Linked DNA regions of Homo sapiens: all the other regions are linked to region 1. The links come from fine-mapping of genetic effects on gene expression. A gene starts in region 1. Each other region holds a variant in brackets. All regions are shown on one strand. Distances are from middle to middle.

The links. PIP is the estimated chance that this variant, and not a neighbour inherited with it, causes the effect. A credible set is the group of variants that fine-mapping cannot tell apart.
Region 2: its variant is the best candidate, but not a certain one, in a credible set for the expression of FBXO25 in whole blood (TOPMed, PIP 0.67).
Region 3: its variant is the best candidate, but not a certain one, in a credible set for the expression of FBXO25 in fibroblasts (GTEx, PIP 0.63).
Region 4: its variant is the best candidate, but not a certain one, in a credible set for the expression of FBXO25 in unexposed skin (GTEx, PIP 0.78).

Annotation. Positions count from the first base shown.
Region 1 is chr8:405,104-409,322 of GRCh38, forward strand. FBXO25 (F-box protein 25) reads left to right here and starts at 1,855. Exons shown (of 10, transcript NM_183420.2): 1 at 1,855-1,963. RefSeq lists a silencer at 1,578-1,987.
Region 2 is chr8:346,498-350,716 of GRCh38, forward strand. No RefSeq gene overlaps it. Among named protein-coding and RNA genes, the nearest start is that of FAM87A, 35 kb to the right of the region's middle. RefSeq lists an enhancer at 3,230-3,763. The variant C/G (reference allele first, on the strand shown) is at 2,241.
Region 3 is chr8:452,216-456,215 of GRCh38, forward strand. The region is part of intron 7 of FBXO25 (F-box protein 25); the gene reads left to right. Among named protein-coding and RNA genes, the nearest start is that of FBXO25, 47 kb to the left of the region's middle. The variant A/G (reference allele first, on the strand shown) is at 1,675.
Region 4 is chr8:467,034-471,252 of GRCh38, forward strand. It overlaps FBXO25 (F-box protein 25), which reads left to right. Exons shown (of 10, transcript NM_183420.2): 10 at 1,682-4,219. The coding sequence ends at 1,771. Among named protein-coding and RNA genes, the nearest start is that of FBXO25, 62 kb to the left of the region's middle. The variant G/T (reference allele first, on the strand shown) is at 2,335.

The sequences.
Region 1 (4,219 bases):
TTTAATATTACTATGTCCCCCATTGTGGTGGTGGGGTCTTGGCTTGGCAATTTCTACTAGTATTCCATATGCAGTTAACCTTGACACATCAGTGAAAGAAAAATAAAATTTCAGGCCTCCAAACTTACTATGCCAAAGGGAAAAGTTAATATTGGCAAAACACACACACACACACACACACACACACACACACACACACGCAGTCTTCTTTTTGTTCCCAAAAGCTTACTTTATCTTATGTGAAATGTAGATCTACTGAGTATGAGACAGATGCATAACCCTCCCCCATACCTTTCTTTTCACATGTGAAATGTAGATTTGCTGTACTCTAATCAGAGCCTCACAAAAATGTGACCACTTGCCTCATAGCCTACTCTCCCCTCTTTCCCCTCCTACCGGCGCTTTTCCCTTAAATATTTGGAAAAAAGTACAGGCCAAAAATCCTACTGTAACCTGTGTTTCTTTTTCCCCAGACACGTCCACGATTTTGGCAGAATAAACCTCTAAATCAGTTGTGATCTGCCTCAGACACTTTTTGCTTTACACAACAATCCAATCATAGCGATTTATTTGGAAATATACCTTCACAAGTTAAATCAGACCACAGCGCTACTGGGCATTATTTATAATGGCAAACTATTGCAAACAATTTAAAACCTATCATAGACATCATAGAAACTATTCTAATAAATTGATACATTTATATAATAGAATAATCCGCAACCTTGAAGGGAATGAAGGAAGGAATAAAGAGAGAGGGAAAGGAAGAAAAGAACGGAGAGAGGGAAGGAGGGACAGACAGGTGTTTAAATTGGGGATGTGCAAGCAATATTGCCTACTTCATTGCCTTCACATTATTTAAAAGCATGTGGTCAAGAAACACTATTATAATAAGCACTTCAGAAATAACTTCTAAAATTACTTTTCCAAAATATGAATCCATACTATACACTTCCTGTAATGTGCACCACATGTAGATGCACACATTTTAACAAGGAAAAGACTAATACTCATATTTGCTTGCTACACACCAGACACTGTTTTAAATGTTTTGCACACGCTAACTCATTTGTTCTTATGGAAATCCTGTAGCGTGCACCGCCACCTCCATGTTTCTAGGCGGAAACTGAGGCACGGGGGCTGCGGCTCCTGGACCCACCTGGCCTTCTCGGCCTGCCTCTCTCCCTCCAGCCGCCCCACATTCTTTTTTCCTAATTGGAAAAAACTATTCACGCTGCTCCTCCAGGGCATTTCAACCTTCTAGAAAGATTCGACAAGATTCGAAACTGTTTATAAAGAGAACGTGCTTGTGCCCGAATGCTGAGTGTGAGCGCGCAGTGATGCCCTAGAGTGCAGTCATCCCGGGCTTGGCGCCCAGCGGGTGGAAATACGGCCGCAGGGTGGAAATGCGGCGGCGGGGCTGCCCAGGCTCCTGTGGGACCCGCGCGGCGCGGGCACGCACATTCTCAGGGACGCGCGTCCTCAGGCCACGAGAACACCTGAAGGCCCCGGCCAGCGTCCTCCCGTGAAGACCCGGACCGGCGTCGTCACCCGCCGCGCAGGCCTAAATCTCAGGTCTTCACCGTCATCTCCCAGCGATCGCAGGGATCTCAGGCACTGACCGCGCCCGTCCCTGCGCACCCGAGCCCCACCCCACGCCCCCACGCCCCCACGCCTCCACGCCCGGCACTCTGGACGCGCGCGGACGGAGGGGCAGTGCCTACTACGCAGGCGCACGCTGCGGGCGACAGGACCAGGCAGCAACATTGCCACGCGGATCCGCGCCGGCCAATCAGCATGGCCAGGGGCGGGGCTTCCCTGAGGCGCGCCGGGAGGCGGCGGCCCACTTCCGGCAATAACCGCCTGGTCGCCGTCAGGTGCGGGCCCAGGTGGCCGGCGCGCCCGTTGGGCACTGGGGGACGCGGGCGCGTCAGGTGAAGACTGGGGGCCGCAGGCGCGCTAGGTAGGTGCGGGGTGCAGCGGGCGCGTCAGGTGAAGACTTGGCGCCGCAGGCGCGTTAGGTGAAGATTGGGGCTCGCGGGCGCGTCAGGTGGGGACGACGGGCCACGGGCGAGTCAGGTGAAGACCGGGGGCGGCGGGCGCGTCAGGGGAAGACATGGGGTCGCGAGCGCGTCAGGTGGGGACGGGGCCTGTGGGAGGGTCAGGTGGGGACCGGGGGCCTCGGGCGCGTCAGGTGGGGACGGGGTTGTCGCGGGCGCGTCAGGTGGGGACGGGATTGCCGCGTGCGCGTCTGCTGAAGTCTGGGTCCGCGGGCGCGTCAGGTAGGGACGATGGGCCGCGGGCGCGTCAGGTGGGGTCTGGGGGCGGCCGGCGGGTGTGGAGGGTTCATTCAGGGAGCTGCGGGCGAGTCGGGTGGGCACGGGGGCCGCCCACAGGTGCACCGCGCGTCCTCAGCCGCTTCCCCTGCCCACCTTCTGCGACCCCTTCCCGCCCCCACCCTCCTGGGCCGTCTTGCAGGCCCGAGCTTGTGTCCGCCTCGCTGGGCAAGGTGTTTCGGGGACGACTCCTGCCGGCGTTTGCCCTCCGGGCTCGGTCCTTGCCTCTTCGCCGGTGGGCACCTGCTAGGTGTGACCCCTCATTCCTCCAGGCCACTCTGCCCCGTCTGCTGCTTACCTTTTTTTCCCTACTCCTGGTCTGTGGCTCTGGCTCTGTCTCTGTCTCCTCCCTTAATTTCTTTCCATGCTTATTTTTCTTGCAGCAGACACTAATTTTGCATCCTTCCCCTCACAGTAAGCTCAATTTGACCTTTTTCTCAATTAGATTCCACCTCTGTCCTTGGGCCTATTCAAACTCATTTTGAAGACTAAAGAATCTAGAGAACCATTTCTTCCCTTATGAAGCTGTCTCTTGCTGCCTCCAAATCCTTACCATCCGGCCCTAATCAGAAAAGACGTTTACTCTTTCATATTCTGTTTTCTCCTCGTCTTTACGTGTTTACCTTTCCCATGAGGAATCTGTGATTATCTGTAAGTCCTTAGAGTACAACTTATTTCTGACTCTCAGCCCTCAGTTTGCCATTTTTTAAAATGTCCTTTCTGGATCAAATTTGTCCACACTTATAAGCAAAACAAATAGGGAAACACATGTGGTCTTTTAAGATGGATTGGAGTTTTCTTTCCTGTGTTGTATTCCTTGTTTTAGTGCCTTTGTATTTAGGTTCATCATTACTTGAAATCATATTAGTGATCTGTAATAGACGGTAAAAAAAAAAAAAGTTAAAAAGCTTATAATTTAATGGCATCTGTTTTAATAGGGTTTTCAGGAACTGCTATTATAAACATAGTGGTTAGGAGCATGGATCCTGGAGTGAGACTCCATCATTTTGAATCCCAGCTCCACTGAACTCTTTGCCTCAGTGTCTTCATCTTTAAAATACATAATGAAACTTGTAAAACAAGAATAATGTTTTCTACCTTGGAGGACAGTGTGAGGATTAAATGAGACAACATATGTAGATTGTTTAGAGTAATGCGTAGCCTATGGTAAGCTCTAATAAATGTTTGCCATTATTATTGTTAAGAAAAAATATGCTTGTTGAAGGAAAGACATTTTTTTTTGTTCTGAGTCTCTCATGCCAAGAGTTTCCACCAGCAAATGAACTTCATGAAGTCCTTTTCTACTGAAGTATCCCACCCACGTGTCCTACCACATGAAATAGAAATTAAGGGAAGATTTTAAATAGTTAATCATTGTAGGCTGTCTGAAATAAGTTGGCATAAAATGTGCTTAAAATTTGCAAATTATACAAGCTACACCCTTTGAGTGCTTGCTCTTAAAAGTTTAATAATTTTCAGGAGTAATTTCTAGTTTTTTTGTGTTTGTAAATTCCCAAAATAAAGGTAATTTTAATTAAAATAAGCGTATAAAGCTCTAGCAATTCACATTTTTTAGCTGAACAAATACATTCCCATTGAAAGCCGTGGGTCATCATCATTCTATAAAACTTTAGTAGCATTGTTTTCTGATTTGCAAACTCAGAAGCCTCAGTTTGGGAGTATTTTTGAAAACTTGAGATCCAGACCCCAGACGTTTTAAATTGCAACTTGTCTTTTTTTGTTGGTGGTGTTGTTTTTAATCTGCATCCAGAGTTTGTGCTTTAGTTCATGAGCTGTATAGATTATGCTTTAAGAAAAACTTCATTGTGATCCATAGAGCATACCATAACAAATCTGTGAAGCACACACATCTTCAGAGAAAC
Region 2 (4,219 bases), 59 kb before region 1:
GTGCCAGACAGAAAGTGGTAGCGGCAAGGAGCTTTATCTTACATCCCAGATCAAGTTTGTCTTGATCACCAGTGTCCTCCGCATGGATGACCTACTTTAGGTGCTGCCCGTTGCTGGTGGGTGATAGTGAAATCTTTCAATTTAAGGAGAAATTAAGTGAAATCACCCCACAGCCGAGGCTCACATTCCACCAGGTCATCTGCAGCTTGGGTTTGAGCCTCACAGGACAGGGTTTCAGCAGTAGCTGATAAATGAGCTGTGCGTGGATTCCAGGGGCACGATAACACACTCTCTCCCGGAAGACGGAAGACGTGGAGTTGTTTAGGGAATTCACAGAACCGAACCGCCTGGAAGGGAACTGTGGGTCTCCCTCACCACAGGCAGTCGCAGAGCTGGGAAGAGGGTGGATCCAGGCTCTGTGGGGCTGGGGGCTGAGCCAGGGCAGGAGCCTCTTTAAGAATTCACACGTCCTCACTCTTGCGTGCCAGTTAGATAATGTGAGCCTGGAGACGCAGAGCATGGAATAACAGTCATTGGAGGCTCAGAAGGGGAGGAGGGTGGGGAGGTGAGGGGGAGGATTACTTAAGGGTAGAATGTTCATTATTTGCGTGATGGTGACACCGGAGACTTCATCGCTGTGCAATATGTGCAAGTAACTGCACTTGCACCCCCTACATTTATACAAATAAAAAATAAATACATAATAAAATGCAAAGAAAGAAGAAGAAGAATTCAGCAAAACAACACAGGCACAGCCCCTGAAGGTGAGGGGCTCAGAGCTCCAGCTTCAAGAGCTTGGGGCAAATCCACCCCGGGGAGGAGCGTCCGAGGCGGCCCTCGGGCGGGAGCCTGAAGACAGCCCGTGCCTCTGTGACCCAGCCACCGTCGGATCCGCTGTGTTGATTACCCTTTCCTATGGAGAACTGCCTCCATCACCACGCGGTCTGTGTGCGTTGACATCGGGACTGATACAAGTTTCTTGACTGAAGTTCAGGCAAGAGAACAGTGATGCCCCAGAGAGCAGCCCTGGCCCCTGGACAGCCAGCAACATGCGGGAACATCAGAGACAGGCGGGTGCTTGGTTGCCTCCTGGCCCGGCCTTCCCCACTAGGAGGATGAGCCTCGCAGCCCTGCCAAGCATGCCTGACGCATCTGGAGCCAGAGGAAACTCCATCTGAGAAACAGAACTAAGTCTCCAGTGGCAAACAAGGGTGCATTCAGAGGAATGAGATGATGGGGAAAAAAGAGAAGAGGGACAGATTCTCCAGTCCATTGGCTCAAGGCAGACAGCCTCGCTTGGTACTTCTTTAAAAGAAATGTTACAAATTTGAATCTAAGTACGCTTTGTTTATATAGCCAAGCATGTTTGGCTTTCCTATTTTATAGCCAGACATCTTTTAAAATGAAAATAAATATTTCTTATATAATTCATATGATTCTGGTAAATCTGTTAGAAAATTATTCTAGAAAGAAAAAAAAGACTGTCCTTTTATTGAGTCACTGTCTACTCTTTTAATTCCTATGTTTATCGATCATATTTGAAAATTGAAGCATTTGAAAGAAATACAGAAAACTTGAATACCAAAACAAACATCTGTGCCTGTTCTTTCACGTACATGACAATACACATCACTGATTCCATATGAAAACCAAGATTTAAAATGTGAAAAGTAGTAATCACAATTATGCCTAAAAAAGCAGTGCCTACATACAAAACCTGTCTGAATAAAGTCAGTTTGTGTCTGCCAATCTCATCAGGAGGAATTGAACCCAGAGCCCAGCCCAGGGACCAGCGCTAATGAAGTCTGTGAATGTGGGGTCGCCTGGAGCTCGAGCTGGTGTCGGTCTCTCTCATTCCTGCAGACTTAGAAGATGAAGCAGACTTGATAAAAGTGGGATTTTAAAAATATTAATTTATAGATGCTTAATAGATATTAAAGCAATATTTTCTACAGTCAGTTGAGTTTGGGTACCGCCGAGTGAGATAACACTATTTCAGGACTTCTGAAGGCATCCGCTGTGTTCATGTGCAGGGACCCATGAGGACACTCAGTAGGCAGTCACCAGGTGTCCCCGGCCACAAGGGCCTTTCACGTTTTTCCCCAAAGCATTTCATGGGGCTGGTGTTCCGTGGGATACAATGAAGGAAGTGCTTCATTCAACAGTTTCTCAATACAGCTTCCTAGGAACAAAATCGTTATTTCAAATTTACCAGAGTGTGTTAACATTAATTTATCAGA[C/G]TCCAACACACTAATCTCTTATCAAATAATTCTAGTTATTTTTATTATCACTAGATGAGAGTGATACAGAGGTAATATATTTCCAGGAAAAAACACTGGGCAGAGTTCAGGAGCTATGCGTGAAGTGTGGTCCTAGCTACATTAAGTTGTAGCCATGAGACATTTAAAACTTTTCTTTATCTGTTTAAAATCCAAGTGTAATCATAATGTGTTAATTCGGTTTAATAATGTATTAATAATTTAAATATAATTTTAGTAGGAGAGCTTCTGTGTGTTCCATTTTTAATGTCTCCACAGCTTGAACTAGGACACCTTTCCTTTGATCCACACAATTGTTCCAATTTGGACACATAGTCCTCTTAACTCTCCTTTGCTTAGCTCAGTCCCACCACTGCACTGAATGAGACACTTTCAGTCACCGATCTGTATGGTACAATCTGAAATGAAACATCCATTTTGAGCATTGCCAATAATCATGATGCCAAATTCATATCATGAAAACTTTAAGCACTATCATGGAGAATTCAGTGTGTGCAAATATATTGCATTATGTCAACTTCTCTGAGATATGCGTTTTGTAGTGTGTCTGCAATGTGCAGACCAAAGGAGGGGAGGGATCCAGCTTGGGCTTGAAGCCTGCTCAGTGTCGATTGAAGACAATTCTGGGTTTGTCAGAAATCCATTTGCAGAAGGAGCCAGAAGGCTTTGGAGAGATATGTCATTTTAGGGAAGAGGGTTGAGAGAACTATGTTTTCCCACATGAGTCAGACGCAGAGCAGAAGCGTGGGGACGCGGTGCCTGGAGGACCCAGACCAGTGGGTGCTGGTCTTCCCAGGTCAGGGCACCAACCTCACACAAGGCCAGAGAGAGGAGGTGTCCTGTGGCCCTCACTAAGCCACAGGCGCCTCCATACAACAGAACCCACAAGACGACATCACCTGGAGAGGCCACGAGGGACGTTCCTCCGGAGCACTGAGCCGGGACTGCGACAAGGGGTCCTAGCAGGGAGCCACGAGGGCACCGGCCCCTCCGTCCACATCCTCCAGGCTCGGAGGCCTCTGCCCTGATGCCTGAGGCTGGATGGGACAGGGACAGAGAGAAGCTATGCAGAGCCCATGGAGGGAAGACCCAACCTGCAGGGGCGGCTTCTTCATGAGCTGCAGGGAGCCCAGCAGAGGAAGGGCCATGATGGGGCAAAGGAGGGGGAAGCTGTGAGTAAGGACATGGCCTCCAGCGAAGCATCCCATGTGGATTTAGGGATGGCCTAGGATCTCTGAATGGATTCAGTTAACAGGCATCAAAGAAACACTCCCAAGTGCATGAAGGAATTGAGTACGAGATAAAACATCAGTTCTAATCACTGGAGGGGCAACGGATGGCTCAGTAGTTTGGGGATATGTGGTTAGCCATTCAGAAATAAAATAAACTGAATTCTATTTTACTAATTAGGTAGGCAGGTAGATAGGTAAGTAAGTAGGTAGGCAGGTGGATAGGTAGGTGGCTAGATGGGTAGACAGATAAGTAAGCAGGCAAGTAGGCAGGCACGTAGGCAGGTAGGTAGGTAGATAGGTAGGCAGGTAGGTACATAAGTAGGTAGATAGGTAGATAGATAGGCAGGTAGGGAGGTAGATAGGCAGGTAGGCAGGTAGGTAGATAGGTAGTTAGCTAGGTGGGTATATAGGTAGGTGGCTAGATATGTAAGCAGGTAGATAAGTAGGTAGCAGGTAGATAGGTAGGTGGCTAGATGGTAGGCAGGTAGATAGGTAAGTAGGTAGGTAGGTGGCTAGATGGCAGGCAGGGAGGTAAGTAGGTAGATAGGCAGGCAGGTAAGTAGGTAGGTAAATAAGAAGGCAGGCAGGTAGGTAGGTAGATAGTCAGGTACACAGGTAGGTAGGTAGATAGGAAAGCAGGTAGGTAGGTAGATAGGCAGGTAGACAGGTAGGTAGGTAGATAGGAAAGCAGGTAGGAAGGTAGATAGG
Region 3 (4,000 bases), 47 kb after region 1:
ATATGGGATTTACAAAAAGAGTGATGATTGCCTAGTTATGAGTCTGAAATTATCCTTAATAATGTAACATTCAGCGTCAGTAAGAGTTAAGCAAGTTTGTTATAAACGTTGGATTCTTTGTTCTGTTGTTGTCTTGGTGTGACCCTACAGTCATTCAAAGCTTTGCACAGGCTGGCTCTTCGCTGCCTCTTTTACTGCGTTCCCCATGCATAGGTGGGTTGTGCTAAAAGTCCATCTGTAAGACACTTATGCATGGCATGGGGCTTGCTGTAGAAGTCCTAACATGAGTGGCGAGGCCACATGGCCAAAGTCCCCTTTCTCCTGATGAGGCAGATCCGTGGTAGTGATGTTCAGCAGGTGACCTTCTGGGGAGAGAATAGGGTGTGTCCTTGTCCATGGTGGGTTTTCATGGTCAGGATCCCAAGGAAGGGGGTGTTTGGGAAAGGCCAAACACCAGACCAGGAAGCAGCCTTTCTTGTCTGGCTGGGAAGTTCCAGGTAGGATTAGTGGCTCTGCATTCTTTGGAGAGAGATGTGGAGCCAGTGGAGAGATGTGCACCGGTGGAGACAACAGCGAAGCTCCAAGGATTGGGCCACACCTCACCAAGAGGAGAGAAAGGAGAAAGCAAGGGACAAGCTTGCATCTTTGACTGGGTGGGCCGAGACAGAGCAGGAAGGCATGGCTGTATGCTGAGCTTCCTTCTGGATCTTCTTTCCATTCATACTACCTGGGAGAGGCACGGGCTGAGGGATAATAGTGCATGTGGCCCCAGCTTGCCCCACTCAGTGCTGACCATAGCCAGTGAAGGAAGACACTCTGCTTTTGGCCCGGGATGGTTCTTACAGCCCTGGTAGGCAGAGCACACTTACGTGGCAATACCTCTCTGCCTCAGCACAGAAGGATAGGTGTTACTGTAGTGCCATTTTGATCAAGTGGGAAAAATAAGGTACAAAAATGAAATTAATGTTTAATCTTTGGGGAATAAGAAAGCGCTGATGATAACACAAAGGTGCCAGTTTTCGTCATGTCCACTCAAATCTTACCATCAGAGACCTTGAACTTGTTTCTTCTCTTTCATTAGTGGTTGCATGCTGCCTGGCATCTCTTCACCTGAGTCCCTGGGTGCTCTCTGGAGCACGCAGCTTGGCATGTGCCTCTGTGAGGATCTTGGCTTCTGGACCCTGTGCCCTGCTTCTAGCCTCGAGGAGGGTCAGGTTCCCTTGTAGGAGTTGGCCAGAGGAGTTTTACCTTTCTGGGAATGTTACTTGAAACCAGTAGAAAGAGCACTTTACCAGCTCAGTTAACTGAGCTGCATTTGTAGATGCCGGACTCAGTCAGCCAAATTGGTCTAAGGCTGCTTAAGGTAAAGACCTGGTCTCCTGACCTGCTGGCTGATGCTGGATTGCTGCCTCCCGCTTATTCACGTGAATTTTGAGGTGACTCAAGCAGATGGGGTTAGAACAGAGCAGCTGAGAGCCTTCCCGGATCCCTGAGAGTGGAAGTCCAAGCACACCGCCTGAAGTTCCGCCATGTCAGCCTCAGGATATAGGGCCAGCTTTCTCCAGTGAGCTGACAGTTGTCTTTGTCTTCTAGATTATCCCAACAAGAAATACCTTGACACCCCTGGCCGGGCGCGGTGGCCCACACCTGTAATCCCAGCCACTTTGGGAGGCC[A/G]AGTCAGGTGGATCACCTGAGGTCAGGAGTTCGAGACCAGCCTGGCCAGCATGGTGAAACGCTGTCTTTACTAAAAATACAAAAATTGGCCAGGTGTGGTGGCAGGTACCTGTAGTCACAGCTACTCGGGAGGCTAAGGCAGGGGATTTGCTTGAACCCGGGAGGTGGAGGTTGCAGTGAGCCGAGATCGTGCCATTGCACTCCAGCGTGGGCGACAAGAGTGAAACTCCGTCTCAAAAAAGAAATACCTCGACACCCCTTAAATCTAAATACTCATAGTCCCAAAAGTAAGCAGAAATTTAGTATATATTTGTGTTGTAAAGTTCCTAAGAACATCAGAAATTTTTTTTCTTGTGAAACAAATATACTTTGCTGTTTAAGCTGCATTTGAAGATATGGCAGTGCTAATGAATTGGAAGTGCTTTCATGTGCACATCTCTGTGACTCAGTGAGAGCAGGCACACAGGTATGTGTTCACATGCTTCCTCACCCCGTCAGCACTTCCTAGATGCCCCCATGTGCTCGCTGGGCCCATCATGAGGTGGGACACATGGATCAGCAGGCGTAGCCTTTAGCATGGGGCCTCCGAGGGACCCAGGGAGATGAGCACATGATGTGTCACAGAACTCAGTGGGGTGTTATAACAGATATGCACACAGGGCTGTTGACATTACATTGGTTCACAAGTGATGTGATGTTTTAGGTGGAGCTTAAAGAATGGGCCGGGCGCGATGGCTCACGCCAGTAGTCCCAGCACTTTGGGAGGCCGAGGTGGGCAGATCACAAGGTCAAGAGATAGAGACCATGCTGGCTAACACGGTGAAATCCCATCTCTACTAAAAATACAAAAAATTAGCCGGGCGTGGTGGGACGTGCCTGTGGTCCCAGCTACTTGGGAGGCTGAGGCAGGAGAATTGCTTGAACCCAGGAAGCAGAGGTTGCAGTGAACTGAGATCACACCACTGCACTCCAGCCTGGGTGACAGAGGGAGACTCCATCTCAAAAAAAGAAAAAGAAAAAGAAAACAAAGAATGAGGGGAGAGTATCCAGGTGATGGCCTCCTGGTCAGTGCTTAACAACTGGCTCTCCAGGGGCAAGAGGTTTGATTTGTAGCCTTTGTCAGCTTCCCACTATGACTGACTTCAAGCCACCAACAAAAAGTAAACTGGCTAACGAAATTCCCAGAAGTTGCAGAATTGACTCCTGTGAGAAGGTATGGGAACTTCCGCATCCAGGGGCTAATAAAGTGTGTTATGCCAAATGTGTGGACTGCTTGGAGGAAGGTGCAGGGGATTAGGACCAGACTCAGGGCTTTGTGGGCATTGCAGAGCCTTTGCTGCTCTCTGCCAAGGGTCATTGAAAGGTCCTTGTTTAGAGGTCCCCTTCAGTGCCAGGCAGGGACCAGCCAGGTTGGAGGGAAGTAAACCCTCATTGCATTCATGAGCAGTGACAGTGAAATGGGAAGAATGAACTTGGGGATACTTGAGCAAAAGAGTAGACTGGTGACTTTGAAGTGGGTGCGAGGGAAGGAAGAATTGAGGGAGACTTCAGTGACTCACCACATATTGAGGGGATGGGCCTCCCATGGAGAAGGGCAGAGCAGTTGGGAACACGGACTTGGGGCCAGGCAGACTGGGCTCGAGGCTGGACCTCGATCTTGGGCAAGCCAGTCAACTCATCTGTATCTCTGTTTTTTTTCTGTGTAAAATAGAATGATAATAGCAACACAAGTTTCTGTTAGCAGAAGTGCTTCCACAGAGAAGTGGGAATCATTGACAGTTGCATGCAATAGCTGAGACTATCCTAAAGCAAGAGAAGCAGCAGCATCGTTTCTTCCTTCCAGTGCAGTGTAGGTGTGAGAGATTTCATGATGGCAGAGAGCATGTAGCTAATCAGTGGAGGAAGTGCAGCAAAAAACGCAGCAGGATTTCTGACATGTTCAGCAAGACTTTTGTGCCTTGTCACATTTCGAGATTTCGTTTGGATGAGAAGTGCTGGCATTTCTGCGACACCCTCTTGTTATAGCCATTAACAGGGATGTAAAACTGGACTCTGCCAGAAATCCCAAATGCTGAGTTGTCACACCAGACTCTATAACTCTACTAATCCGGGATTTTTTTTCTTCGTACTACCTTCATACCACCACTTCATGCTACCTTTAAAGTTTGTAATTTTAGCAGCAGAATATTTGTAAACTACTGTCTGCTACAGAAATTTTTCTCAGTAGGAATTAGAATGAAGCACCTGGAAGACATAATTCTTGTGAGAGTGTTAGACTTTTAGTTAGGGGTTAATTTACTTGCACGTTATCTTTTTGTTTTGTTTT
Region 4 (4,219 bases), 62 kb after region 1:
CAGGCCTGTGTGGACATCAGGAGCAAAGTTGGAGCCAGAATCCAAGATGAGGTGTCCATGGTCTGGTGGTCCTGGTCTTGCAGGGGAACCGCTTTGCTAGTAGCATCCTGAACCAGCGGGGGAGAACAGCACAGGAGGGCAGCTGCTGAGGCTTGGGTCTGTGTTGGAAAGTGGCATTCACTGGCCTGGAGGAACAAGTGTCAGAGGTGGAGGCTGGCTTAAGGGCATGTGTGGAATTGACTTAATGTGCATTACTGAGCACAGAGCAGAGCCTTCGGATGTTAAATGAAGAACAAAGAACTTTCCCCAAAAAAATCTGTTATAAAGTTTTAATATAAACTGCACATGGAAATAGCATCTCTTCTTCAGTGAATAATTTTAAAGGTTATTTAGCACTGCAGCCTCATTAGTTGCCAAATTTGAAAGACTTAAAGGTAGAGATATGTTGTCTTAAGACTGTCTTCAAGTAGTTTGGGAATTTTTGGGTTATCTGATGAGAACTTGTTTGCTTTTAATAACCTTGTACTGTCCAAATTTAGTTACCTGATGTTTTTAGTTATTTTCGTAAATAATATGAATCAAACCTGAATGCTTAGATACACTCTGGCTCTTTCTAATCTTAACTTTTCCTTTTTTTCCCTCCCTTCACTGCATTCCTTCCTGATTCTTTCTTCATGATCTCGAAGGACTACCATCTTGCTTTACTATTCAAGGTACTTCCCTGTCTTGCCACACATCCTGTGTTCGGGATGAAAACGTTGCATCGTGCTGCATCTCATGCACGTCATCTTGGCCACTGCCCGGCTCGATTCCAGCTCTCGCTGACTTGAGCTTTCTCAGGACCCTGAGCAGGGCTGAGTGGCCACTTTGATCAAACACCTCAGCAAGGACGAGAGTGTTGATGAAATATTTTGCAGAACAACACCTGAGTGCTGAGGGAGGCTGCTAGATGTGCGCATAAACACTTCACCACACAGCACCTGGTTTGGCAGCACTGCCAGGGCATGCCATGGAGAGATCCAGCACTGACCCCAGAGCCTCTGGTCCCGTTTACCTGCGTTCCTCCTAAGAGTCTGCCAGTCTTCATCCACAAAATTAATTTTTCTGTCGTCACTTCTCATATTAAATATAATTCTGGATCCTTAGGTATGTGAGCATGGCCAGCTCCCTTGGAGCAAGCAGGAGCCTTGGGGGCTGAGGCCGTGTGTCCCCCTCTCCTGTCCTATGCAGGGAGCCCAAGCTGATTCAGGGATGAATGGCGGGTGGAGGGAACCCTGTGTAACAAAGTGAGCCAGGAACAGGAGGACAGGACAAAGGAATGGCTGGGACCAGAGGACAGAAAGTCCCCAGTGGTTTCTTCTGTGGCCTTGTAGATTCCGGGGCAGTGCAGGGTGGTGTCAGCAGCTGGCTCCTCTGACTCAGTACCAGATTCGGCACTGGAGGGCAGACCTGGGGCCACCGTCTCCTGCCCTACCTGAGCAGGAGTTCCATGGGAAACCTCTATGTAGAATCGGCTGCGGCTGCCCTTGTGTTGGTCATTCTCATCCAAGTTATCTCCCATGTACCTCTGAGGTGGGGCCCAGGGTCCACATCAACAAGCAGCTGACGACCCCTCAAGCACCATCACTAGAGTGTGGCTGGTGGTGGGGCCCCCTCCTAACCATCTCCCACCTCCCCACAGGACTCAGGACACCCCTGCACGGCGGCCGACCCTGACAGCTGCTTCACGCCTGTGTCTCCGCAGCACTTCATCGACCTCTTCAAGTTTTAAGGGCTGCCCCTGCCATCCCTATTGGAGATTGTGAATCCTGCTGTCTGTGCAGGGCTCATAGTGAGTGTTCTGTGAGGTGGGTGGAGACTCCTCGGAAGCCCCTGCTTCCAGAAAGCCTGGGAAGAACTGCCCTTCTGCAAAGGGGGGACTGCATGGTTGCATTTTCATCACTGAAAGTCAGAGGCCAAGGAAATCATTTCTACTTCTTTAAAAACTCCTTCTAAGCATATTAAAATGTGAAATTTTGCGTACTCTCTCTCTCTATATATATAGTTCAAAAATACTTTAGGTGGTCAGCTCCACATTCTTTGTTGACGTGACACTAACGGCCAATAATATGCTTCTTAATTATCAAATTATAGTTTCCCAATTGGGAAACTAATTGGGGGTGGGTTACAAAACATTTGATCCTTGTAAATACATTGTACAGAATATTTATTTTTTCTCAAAATGCATTTTAACTACTACATTGGCTGTGCCCAAATGAGTCCTCTTTGAATAGAAAGTGAACCCAGGGCAATGACAGCCATTCTTGTCTTAGGGATTATGGATCGGGGTATGAA[G/T]TGTGCACACGCAGCCCAACAACGGGCAGTGGTCTCTGTGCTCCTAGGCATCCAGCACAGGTTCTGGCAGGGCACCCCTGCTGGGGTTGGGGGCTGGTCTGTGCATAATCCTGGACTGTGATGGGAACAGCCCAGTGCAGTCTAAACTTCAATTGTGTTGAAACTACTTTAATAGACAAAGTAATAAATCATGTTTATCTATTGATTTAAACTTCATCAGTTTTGCATCCTACTGAGAAATGTTAGTGATTTTGATACTTAAATCCTTAAAAGATTGCTTCGTTTTTAAAATAACGCATGTCCATTTTAGAAAATTAGAAAATCAGTCCCACCACCCAAAGATTATTGTGCATGCTGAAAAGAGTATGAAAAATCCCCTCAGCAGGCATAGGATAGAAACGTATTGTTGTATATTTCCATTTTTGAATAGGGTCAAGGAGCCCAAGCAAATCATTTCTACTTTTTCCTTTAAGCATAATAATAAAAGTATACTTTTATGGCGTTATAAATAGGACTAAAAAAAGATTCTGGATTTTTCAGCCCCACTTCTGTGAACTGACACAAATGGCCAAGAATGCATTTATTTGTCAAATTATAGTTTCTCCTGAGGCGATGCAAATACCTGGGGCCTCTGCGAATATATGTTAGTTTTTCATAAGACCATAAATGTCCCGTATACCACTGTTACTTCACAACGCCCCCCGTCCCGACCCTGCCTTTTTTTAGAAACGTAGAACCATATCCTAAATGTTATTTGGAAACTTGGCTTTTATTAGCTCCACAGAATCACCCAGATGGAACAGGCTTTTTCATCACAACATATTGGGGTTCCTGAGTGTCTCGCCGTTAGCATCAATAACTATGATAAGCATCGTCACACAACAATGTGGCCGTCTCCTTACAACCACTGGTAGTACAGCCAACATCATGAGTCAAACATATTTTAAGGCTTTTAAATATATTTCTAGATTGTTCATGAAAAAAAATTTTTTTGGAGTTTGTTTTTGAGACAGGGTCTTGCTCTGTCACCCAGGCTGGAGTGCAGGGGTATGATGTCGGCTTACTGCAACCTCTGTCCCCCAGGCTCAAGTGATCCTCCCACCTCACCCTCCAGTGATCCTCCCACCTCAGCCTCCCAAGCAGTCAGGACCACAGGCATATACCACCATGCTCAGCTGTTTTTTTGTATTTTTAGTAGAGATGGGGTTTCACCATGTTGCCCAGGCTGGTCTCAGGAGTTTGAGCTCAAGCAATCCACCTGCCTCAGCTTCCCAAAGTGCTGGGATTACAGGCATGAGCCACCACGTCCAGCTGAGAAAAGAAATTGTTCTAATCTAGGAAAGGGAGTAAGTACATTGAGTTTCCATTATCCCTGAAGCACAGGTATTTCTTTTTCTGTTGGTGCTGTTTTAATAAGTGAAGAATTTGATGTATGATAAATTGTGAGCTTGAATATTTCCATATATTTATTATCCATTTGCTTTTCTTGTTTTTGGTAAATTACTTAATGTGGTATTTGCCTGTTTTTTGGGGTGGATGTCAGTCTTTTTTCATGTTAGTTTCTTCTTAAAAGGAAACTATCCTTTTGAAGTTGTGGTTCTTTCCCCTAATTTGTCATATACTGTTACTGTCATTTAATTGTTAGATGTTATAACAGTTCTCAGCTGTGCTATCAAATCACAGATGTGCATTTAACTTGTATAAATTGAGCAGTACTTGCTTGGAAAACATAACCATATTAATAGTGTAGGATTCCAGCTGTTCTGCTGGGCTGGCATATTTCCACAGGCCATGGACACAGCTAGCCGCATTGCCACTGCATGGGTCACAGCCTCCTGCAGGTGCGTTCGAGGGACAAGCTGTGGGAGCTGGGCAGGTAAGCAGG